Linked DNA regions of Homo sapiens. The protein of the gene in region 3 purifies or fractionates together with the protein of the main gene of each other region. This does not show direct contact. Each region holds a gene or a part of one and is shown on either strand. Other genes may lie near its edges.

The links.
Region 1: the proteins of RMND5B (region 3) and RANBP9 purify together in Homo sapiens (affinity purification with mass spectrometry; 2 studies listed by BioGRID and IntAct, with this or other methods). This does not show direct contact.
Region 2: the proteins of RMND5B (region 3) and RAB8A purify together in Homo sapiens (affinity purification with mass spectrometry, with the first as the bait; one large-scale study listed by BioGRID). This does not show direct contact.

Annotation. Positions count from the first base shown.
Region 1 is NC_000006.12:13,621,149-13,624,902, forward strand, and holds the end of RANBP9 (ran-binding protein 9), read right to left. Parts: intron 1,345-3,754; coding exon 1,214-1,344; 3' UTR 350-1,213; downstream 1-349. UniProt on the Homo sapiens protein: May act as scaffolding protein, and as adapter protein to couple membrane receptors to intracellular signaling pathways. Acts as a mediator of cell spreading and actin cytoskeleton rearrangement.
Region 2 is NC_000019.10:16,128,889-16,131,965, forward strand, and holds part of RAB8A (ras-related protein Rab-8A), read left to right. Parts: intron 1-665; coding exon 666-716; intron 717-3,077. UniProt on the Homo sapiens protein: The small GTPases Rab are key regulators of intracellular membrane trafficking, from the formation of transport vesicles to their fusion with membranes.
Region 3 is NC_000005.10:178,133,939-178,137,592, forward strand, and holds part of RMND5B (E3 ubiquitin-protein transferase RMND5B), read left to right. Parts: intron 1-1,231; exon of another isoform or gene 1,232-1,274; coding exon of another isoform or gene 1,275-1,374; intron 1,375-3,654. UniProt on the Homo sapiens protein: Core component of the CTLH E3 ubiquitin-protein ligase complex that selectively accepts ubiquitin from UBE2H and mediates ubiquitination and subsequent proteasomal degradation of the transcription factor HBP1.

The DNA.
Region 1 (3,754 bases), on a different chromosome or scaffold from region 3:
GTCTCTAACTGCAGCCTGTAGACAATTTGCTATTAAAGATTCAGTGCACAAAATATAGCTAACAGCTTTTAAATTTTTACTTTTAACCAGTCTGGGGATTTGCTTGCCTGGTGAGTCTCATATGCCATATTATGAATATGAAAATAATGAAGTTAATTTCCTGTTGCCTTTCTGTGTCAGCCACAATATCAGGTCTAACCCTAATCCAGGGATGCCAGTAAACTGAAGGCAATTTTAGGTTGTAGAACTCAGATTAATTGTAGAAACCATTAATTTTAATTGCTCTAATTTTCATAGTAATCATAAAAAGTATGCAAGTACCTAATATATAAACTCAATTGACACTGTATCTGTAGAAGTAAATTTTTAATGGCTGGTTAATTATATCACTACATTTTATTGCAATATAGTACTCATTTAAGCACTTAAAAATGGAAGGTGTACAAAGATTAAATTAAGACACGGTAAATTGACTAAATATTTGGTTTTTATATAAATAAAGGTCATAACCACACCGTTGACATGTAATACTGTTATAATACAACAGTTAAACTTGTGAGTCTACAACAGAAGTCATCTGTAGTTAAACAGGAAACAAAGTTGAAAAAGACCATGTTAAAACAAAACTACTGGGACTAACAGGTCGGGATTGTAAGTAGCAACAAACATATTCACTCAGCTCCTGAGTATTTCAAGTTTTACAGTACACATTAAAAATGATTTCTTCCATCAACACTATAAATTCAAACTGTCGGATGTTTATGCATTTTGCAAGTTACACTGATTGAATGCTTATATGGGAGTGGGGGTCGGAACATCTCCCAATTTGAAGTTTACATCACCCACATGCTAACACAAACACAACTTGTTCCATTTCCTTCCCCTCTCTCCCCCCTCCCCCACAAAGAAGGCAGGATTTTTGGTTTCTTTTAGGTAATTGTTTTAAAGGATTTGTGATGATCAATTTGAACGTCTGAAATTCAGTAATATTTAACTCTTAGACAACTAAGAGGTTAAAGATGGAAAATAATTTCTCCTAACACTAAGTTAGAAAATCATTTGCATCATGCTGTAAACTAGGAAGCAATGTAAAGCGACAAAAACCTGTCCCCAGTACATAATTTAAAAAATCTAAATTTCAAATCAGCAGAGCTGGTCTACTTCCATGTTGACTATATGCCACAATATAAGTGTGAGCTCTTGAAATGCATAGCTAATGTAGGTAGTCTTCCACTGTGGCAAATGCGCAGGATCCAATTCCTGATCGAGCCATCAGTCCTAGACATTGTGTGGCCTGTCCCATTGCTAGGGCAAGTGGAGGTTGCTTTGGCAGATTGTGGGTTTCTGAGGAAAAATAATTTAAAAATGAGAACAGCAATTAGCAAGACATTTTAAAAAACATTTCAATCAGGAGAATACTGCAATGACTTTAAAAACTACCACTCCCATACCACTCTGAAATATCAGCAAATGAAGGTTTCTAAGCAAAAGACAGATGCCGCCTTGGACATACTATTCTGACAAGGTAGTGTGGGTATTGTGTATTCAACTATAAGATAAACTCTGGCAGAATCAGACTTTTAAAGTATCAGATACTAAAATACTTCCATATTAACTATGATGGGAAAGGTACAATTTTTTATCTGATATTTGGAGTGGAGAGTAAGGAATTATTTCCCTTCTGGTTGATCAAAGTCAGTTGATACTAACTAAAACTAAAAAAGGCACCAGGTTTTCATTACAAGTTTCCACTGATGGGTTCTTCCACCTCTGTGGATAGGACCAAACAGGCTGCCTAGCCATCTCCAAGGCATATATAGGTAATGTTATTTGGGCTGGTGGGGAGTAAGTGGTGGTGGTGACAGTGAGAGAACATACAGCAGAGCCACCCCACAGTTTTGGAGGTGCTAATTTACAGTGGACAGTTCAGACATTTAAAAAAATGCCAATAAATTTTCAGGGTCCTGCATATCATAAGTTTCTTTGTCAGACATTTGTAGTACAAATGCAATAATTAACAAAATTTGTTCCTTGCCAGAGATGGAAAAAAATGAACTAATGGTAAAAGTGGCCAGACTCAGAAGCTGGTAATTTCTCTTTATGAGAAGGCAATGTCCAAACTAATCAATAAAATTACTAATCAGTTCTTTATAGGCACAGTTGACAACAAAGGGCAAAAACAGTTGACACATGGCTAGGAAGGCTTCATATGGTTTAACTCCACTCTTGGTTCAGAGGATGCAATTTGATGGTGGAAGAAAGAAGAGGAAATTTCCAAAAGGGAAAAAGCACAATATCAGAAAGAAGCAAATTCAGGACTTAAAGGTAGAAGAGAAAACAAAAACAGGATTAAGAATAAACGTGTGCAAAAAAGGGCACATAGATTGATGAGAAAGTGTGGTGTCTTGAGGGTTCACAGGGAAGACCGTGCTCAAAGACAAACATCTACAGGGAATATTTTTTTAATTTTATTTTGGCCAAAGGAAGCATCTGGCGATGCATCTTTAACTTTTTTGGATGTATGAAATTTTCATAACACTATATAGATGGACCTACATAATATAGCATGGTATTTATAAACATATACATGCCCATCTATAGCAGTTTAATAATTGTGTCATTAATTTTACAGGAATCGCATACATTTATATTAATAAGATTAAGCACTATTTATGGCTGAATCTACATAATATAGCACAATATGTAAGAGTATATGTGTCTATAGATAATGGTGCTCAACAATTAAATTCCCTTGAAGAACTCAAGAAACTAAATTGTAAGAAAACTGGTCACTTTAAAGATTAGTATCATCTAATAATTAGGTCTTAATGATTACCTACAATATAACTTCAAAAAGACATTTATAGTAAACCATAATTTTCCTTACAATTCCAGCATTATTACTAAGTTACTTTTACCAACGGAGCTAAATGAATTTTGTAGAACCAATGAAAATATAACACATTAACCAAAGAAAATTCACATTTATATACAAATCCTAAATTCCGGAGAACTACAACACTGAGGACACTACTCCTATTCCCAAACTTCAGTATTGGTCCTTAACAAATTAATAAATTTTCTAAGGGCAAAGAAACAGACTGAGTCTTAAATATGAATGCTTTTCATTGCTTCCTTTACATTCTTGCTGTAAGAGTCCTGGCCCTCATTGCAAGTCTCCCTATCTAAACTACTCTTTAATCTACTTTTTGTGGCACTGCCCTCATCTTCCTAAACTAGTTTGAAATATGTGACTAAAAGTCCCTGAACCTTGCAGGGCCAAACAGCACAGCACAGACTTCTAAACTAGACTGGAGTCCCAATTACCTGGGAATTAGACTCTGAAGTCAAATGAAAACTCACTCTTTATATAAATTACCTTTGATGAGAACTGCCCAAAACTCAAACTTGTTTTATGTAAACAATCGACCCTATCACATTTATATAGAAATGCACAATATGTGCAGTTACACAATTCATATAAAAAGTACTTGTTCAGTATATAAATACTATAATCACAAACGCTACAGTGAGCTGCTCATAGGAATGGCAACCAAACGAACATCGAATTAGCGTTTCGCACTTGATGCTCACCCCTGGCTAAGCCTCGCCTTTTAAATTGCTTTTCTCTTCCTCACCCACCCTTTTTATTGGGTAAGGGCATGTAGTTGAATCCGGCTAATATAAATGCAAATAGAATGTGACATCAAGGCTTGATCCTGCCGGGTACTCACAAGTCATCAGGAAGCCCCTT
Region 2 (3,077 bases), on a different chromosome or scaffold from region 3:
CTCTCCTCTCCAGAACCTCCCACATCATGGGGATGTATGTTGGGATCACGCCTCCCGCCATCTCTGTATGTCCCCTCCTCAAGGCTGTGACAGCAGCTCAACCCTTGGCTGTGCTGGGAGATGAACCTGCTCCCGCTCCCAGCCCTGCCAGGCAAGGACTCCGAGTGAAGCTTGTTTGGCCACAGAGCTGCTTGCCTTTTTCCCTGACCATCAGAAGGGAGGCCAGAGCTGACAGAACCTAGGAGTCAGAGACAAAGAACTGGGCACTCCTAGATCCTTCTGGATTGGTCGGTTAACTGCTGGGTTCCTTTGGACAAGTCACTTGGCCTCTCTGAGCCTCAGTTTCCTCTCTGGCCAACTGAGTGTCGCCCCATCTCACAGGGCTTAGGGGAGGTGGCACATGCGTAAAGTCCCGTCAATGCTAAGGTGCTCTGCGGAAGTGAGAGTTGATGTCAGAGAGTAAGGGTGGGTGGGAGGCAGAGGGAGCCGGGGAAGGATGAGCTGGGGCCGGACAGGCCAGATGAACCCACTGCCAGAGGCGGGCATCAAAGGGCCAAATGGGAGGCCCACGCCTGGGAAGCTGTCTCACCACACCCGCTGTACACGGGCGGCTGAGGACTCAGGGTCCTGCCATCCCAAGGACTCACAATGTGCTTATTCCACAGGCATTTTTCACTCTCGCCAGAGATATCAAAGCAAAAATGGACAAAAAATTGGTGAGTGTGTGTCCTTCCGAGATCCCCGGGTGGATCTCTGGGATCCAGCCATCGTCGTTAGCAGCAGTGATATGACGTGCCCTAGATCCTGCTTTTTAGGGCCCAGCCAGACCCCATGGGACATTGCTGGGAAAGGGGGAAGAGTTTGCAGGTGTGGCTGGGGCATCAGCATCAGGCAGTGCCAGCCTGGGGACGCTGCCCAAGCAGACAAGGCCGTGCCCGGTGAATCCCCAGGCTAGCAGGGAGCACACGGCCTTTTCCATTCCACTCAAGGGCCAGAAAGACAACATGGTGTGCAAGGACAGAGAGCCATGGCTCGGAGAAAAGCTTCCTAGGTCGCTTGGGCAGGGCCAGGGCTGGTGTCTGATAACTGCTGGCTCATCGTCTTGACAAGCATGGCAGATCAAGAACCTGCCCCCGCTCCACCCCAGCCCCAGATGCTACAAGTTGTGACAGCTCTGCAACCTTCATTGTGTCCCAGGGTTCTCTGAGGCCTCCAGGGAAGTCTGCATGAATCCCTACCCATCTACCCTCTCATTCGTTTCTTGCTTTTTTTTTTTTACCACGTTAGCGATTTCCTAGTCCGCTGCGCTCAGTATCAATGGTGCTTTCTTGATGGAATCAAACACTTCCCTGTACTTTGGGGGCATTTAGTGCCTAAACACCGTAGTGACCCTTCCTCCCTCGCCCTGGTTCCAGCAACTGCCCTTTCCCGGCCATGTTACATTGGTTGTCCAATCGAGGAGCACACGGCGCTCTATTTGTGGGTTAAGTCTGGTCACTTGAGAATGCACATAAAATACAAAATGCCGTTCAAGTTTTACATCTGATGTAAGCAAATCTGTTTTGTAATTCTAAGATGCGGTGTGTTGAACAGTGAGGCATGTGATTGATTTAATAGCAGCTCTTTGGCCATTAAATTAAAATGGGAAACAGTTCATGGAAACCAGTGCACTGACCAACAATAATTTGGGATTTTCTTGCAATTTTTTTTCTTCAGTATAATGGTCAAGGTCTGATTCTTTTTTCTTTTAGTTTTCTTATTAGTTAAAAAAGAGATTTTTTTTTTAGAGTCTCACTTTGCCACCTAGGCTGGAGTGCAGTGGCACCATCACAGCTCACTGCAGCCTTCAACTCCTGGGCTCAAGCAATCCTCCCACCTCCGCCTCCCAAGTAGCTGGGGCTATAAGCACACACCACCATGCCTGGCTAATTTTTTTTCTTTTTCTTTTTTTTTGAGAAGGAGTCTCGCTCTGTTGCCCAGGCTAGAGTGCAATGGTGCAATCCCTGCTCACTGCAACCTCTGCCTCCCAGGTTCAAGCGGTTCTTCTGACTCAACCTCCCGAGTACTTGGGATTACAGGCACATGTCACCACGCCCAGCTAATTTTTGTATTTTTAGTAGAGACGAGGCTTCACCATGTTGGTCAGGCTGGTCTTGAACTCCTGACCTCAGGTGATCCACCTGCCTCGGCCTCCCAAAGTGTTGGGATTACAGGTGTGGGCCACCCCGCCTGGCCATTTTTTCTTTTTTAAGAGGCAGGATCTCACTTGTTACCCAGGCTGGACTCAAACTCCTGGGCTCAAGCAGTTCTTCTGCCTCAGCCTCCCAAAGTGCTGGGAAGGGTATGATGGGGTGGGCAGATAAGTGAGAGAGTGGTTGGAAGGGGTGGTATATAGCAGATGGAAAATAGATCTGTTTCTGAAAAACGAATTATCAGTTGTAAGAGAATTGGATGGATGGGTAGAAGATAATGGATGGATGGTTGGTTGAAAGGGAATAAATCGATGGTTGATTTGTTGGAAGGAGATGGTTGGATAGATAGATGATTGGTTTGTTGGTTGGTTGGAAGGGGATGGATGAATGGTTGGTTGGAAGGAGGTGGTTGCTTGGAAGGGGATGGATGGATGGTTGATTGGTCAGAAGGGGTGGTTAGAAGGAGATGGTTAGTTGGAAGAGGGTGGATGGGGGGAAGGAGATGGATGGGTGGATGGATGGTTGGAAAGGGATGGATGGATGGTTGGTTGGATGAGGTGGTTAGAAGGGGATGGATGGTTGGTTGGTTGGTTGGAAGGGGATGGATGGTTGGAAGAAGATGGATGGTTGGAAAGGGATGGATGAGTGGATGGTTCTTGGTTGGAAGGGATGGATGGTTGGTTGATTGGTTTGTTGGTTGGAAGCAGGTGGATAGACGGATGGAAGGGAATGGGTGAGTGGATGGATGGATGGTTGAAAGGGTATAGATGGATGGTTGGTTGGTTGGTTGGTTGGTTGGTTGGTTGGTTGGTTGGTTGGATGGTTGGAAGGGGACAGCTGGACGGACTGGCAGATGATGGATGGATGGTTTGATGGCTGATTGGT
Region 3 (3,654 bases):
TCCTGACCTCATGATCCACTCGCCTCGGCCTCCCAAAGTGTTGGGATTACAGGCGTGAGCCACCGCGCCCTGCCCCAATCAACAAATGTTTACTGAGCATCTACCATGGACCAGGCCCTAGTCTGGGCACTGAGGGGGAGAAAGGACAAGACTACATTCCAGCCATCGAGCAGCTCACAGACCAATGGAGGAGGCTGACGTGGACAGGCTGTTACTGTGCTGCAGTAGCTGAGGACTCGATGGGTGTGGTGTGGCCACTCTTGCCAGGTTATGAAGCAGAAAAGGAGGCAGGGAGATTTCACTGAGGGCTCAAGGGGAGGTGATAATTTAACTACAGCTTACGTACTCTATACAAAGAAGTGCAGAGGGCACTCTAAAAATGGGAACAACTTGTGCAAAGGAAGCAAATACATTATTGCAAAGGGTTTATATGTCAACCATGGTAGTGTTGGGCAAAAGGTAACAGGATCTGCTATGTGTTTCGGAGGGTCATCCTGGTGGATAATTTCTGTATATGTGAGACCTTGGGGAGGAAGGCTTAGGACCAGTGGACATGAAATTTCAATCTATTAATCATGAAGTTTGTCAAAGACAAACACAATTCCTTGCGCCTGGTGAAGATGACTGACTGATTCAGGCAGAGTGGCTTGCTCTAGACAGACTGAATTAACCTCCTGCATTTTTTGGATAGAATACCCACGAACAGTTCTGTTTTCTCAGTTCATTTATTTTACTTTTAAAAATTTGGCCAGGTGATTTGGCTCACACCTGTAATCCCAGTGCTTTGGGAGGCCAAGGCAGGTGGATCACTTGAGGCTAGGAGTTCGAGACCAGCCTGGCCAAAATGGCGAAACCCCGTCTTTACTAAAAATACAAAAATGAAAAAAAAAAAAAGCCAGGTGTGGTGGTGCACCTGTAATCCCAGCTACTTGGGAGACCAAGGCATAAGAATTGCTTGGACCCGGGAGGTGGAGGTTGCCAGTGAGCCAAGATAGCACCACTGTATTCCAGCCTGGGCAACAGAGCGAGACCGTCTACAAAAAAAAAAAAAAAATTACTGAGTTAATCACACTCCTCAGTTCATGATACATTTAACTGGTCCATGCAGGGCCTTTTTCTCCTTTGTATTTATATTCCCTTTTGTCCCTATTCTTCCCCTCTCTTCTCACCACAGGAAACCATTCTGATGTGTTTGGTGTATATCTTCTTTTTGTTTTTTGTTTTTTTGAGACAGGGTCTCACTCTTGCTCAGGCTGGAATGCAGTGGCATAATCATGGCTGACTGCAGCCTTGACCTCCCGGGCTCAAGCAGTCCTCCGTCCCACCTCAGCCTTCTGAGGAGCTGGGACCACAGGCGTGTGCCACCATGCCCAGGTAAATTTGCCGTGTTGCCCAAGCTAGTCTCAAACTCCTGAGCTCAGCAGTCTGCCTGCCTTGACCTCCCAAAATGCTGAGATTACAGGTGTGAGCCACTGCTCCCAGCCTATATGCATATACTTTTAATTTACATAAATGGATTCTGCCTAGACCTCATTTTTTTCCACCTCAGTGCCATGTGTGGAGCTTGTCGATGTTGCTCTGGGTATATTTGGGATGCAGTTTCTAAATGCTCCACAGGTTTCCATAGATGCATCCCCCACATTTTACTTACTTGATTCCTCTAGTGATGAGGTCCCTAGATTGTTTCCCACTCCTTGCTACAATGCAATCCCGTACCCATCTCCTTCCTCAGCTTTGTAAATAGAATTTTATCGCTTCTCAGCCTTTTCGCTGAGATCAAGTGTAGTAAATACAATTTCAAGATGCTGATTTGAGCTTGGCTTTGATAAGCCTGGTAGCTCTTGGTGTCTGACAGGGCCGGATTGTTTGACCTTCGTGAGGTCCTGGCTTTTTTGAGCCATGTTTATTTTTGATAAATTGTGATTCTAGTTCCCAGACACTCTTGGCCAACATTCTAGTGTCCTGCCATCTTCCCCAGTTGATCATTCTCACGAGCTCTGTGGTTAATTTTCTGTTTCTCATCATCATTAATGGTTGCTGTACACTCATTCCAACACAGATATTTGCTCTTTCCTTTCCTGGTGAAACAGTGGCCTGTGAAGCTGGTCCTGGGAGTACCTGTGATGTGAAGTACGTAGAGAAGGACTCTGAGGCCAGAGCCAGACTGTCTGGCTTCAGTTCAGTTCCCAGCTCCTCCACTTCCCAGACGCCTGACCTTGGGCAACTGATTTAATCTTTGTGTCTCATTTTCTCATCTGCAAAGTGGGTCTAATCATTGTACCTACCTCATAGTGTTTTCGTGAGCATTAGGTAAATGAATTAATGTATGCAAAGTCATTAGAACGGTGCCTGGCACATAACAGGCTCCTATTTGGAATGTCAGCTGTTAATAATAGCAATAATAATAATTACGTCATTTCAGATAGGAGACCCTGTTATATTTTGCCATAATGGGTCACATTCAGTTGCAGGGTGTTTGTTCAGAGGGGATGGTGGGGGGTGGGTGGCATAGCTTCTGGACTCTCTGACTATAGATTCCAGCGTAATAGCATTAGCTGTAAGGAAAAAGGGAAGAAACACAGCCCCCAAGGCCCTGGGTGCCTTTTCACTGTCACTTGTTGCCTGTCAGGTTGGGAGACAGTGGCTACAGATGGGTCAAGGTGCTGAGGCCGGGACTCATGCTGGTGGGAATGAGGGAATGAGTGAAGAGAGCCTGTGAAACTGGGAGGATCTTGGTGGTCACCTTGGACATAGGATTCTCTTTCTCTTTGATGTTCCTCTGTACCCTTCTTGAGAATGGGCATTGGGCTAGATCAGCTCTGTCACTGACATTCTGAGGTTTGCCCACGTGTTCAGTGTCAAAGGCTGCTCTGAAATGGAAAGGAGCAGTGGCCCAGGGTAGAAAGGACACAGAAGGAAGCCCCAGTGGTAGGGAGAGGAGATAGGACAAGAAAAGTCAACTTTCTTTCAATGGTATAATGAGGAGGGAAGGTTGTGTTGCAGCAAGAGAGGTTCTGGTCTGGTGGGGGAGGCAGGCCCAGTGACCAAAACTGAAATAGAAGGGTGCAAAGTGAGAGTAGAGGGAGCTAGGTGGGCACAGGCTAGAGACAGCTGCTGAAGACGCTGACGTCTGAGCTAACTCAGAAGTGATGGGCCAGCCTCTCAAGTAGTCGAGGAGGTAAGGGTGATGGAGAGCAGGCCAGGTGAGGAAGCAGCATGTACCAGGGCACGCAGCTATGAGACAGCAAGGGTTCTGTGCCTGTCCTCGGGTGTGCGGCGGGTGAGGGTGAGGCAGGAGTGCTGGGCAAGTCCGTCAGGCCAGCATGGTTGGCAGTTATTCCCCAAGCTGTGTTTCCAAATATCAGCCACTCAAGGACGGCCTTTATGGTTTATGTTACTATAGTACGTAGAAAAGCAGTTCCTCTAACTGTAAGAATGTGGCCATAATAACTCTATGAAAATACACGGGCCGGGCATGGTGGCTTATGCCTATAATCCCAGCACTTTGAGAGGCCAAGGTGGAAAGATCGTTTGAGCCCAGGAGTTTGAGACCAGCCAGGGCAACACAGAGAGACCCGTCTCTACGAAAAAAAATTTTAAATTAGACAGGTGTAGAAGCACACTCCTGTGGTCCCAGCTAGTCAGGAGGCTAAA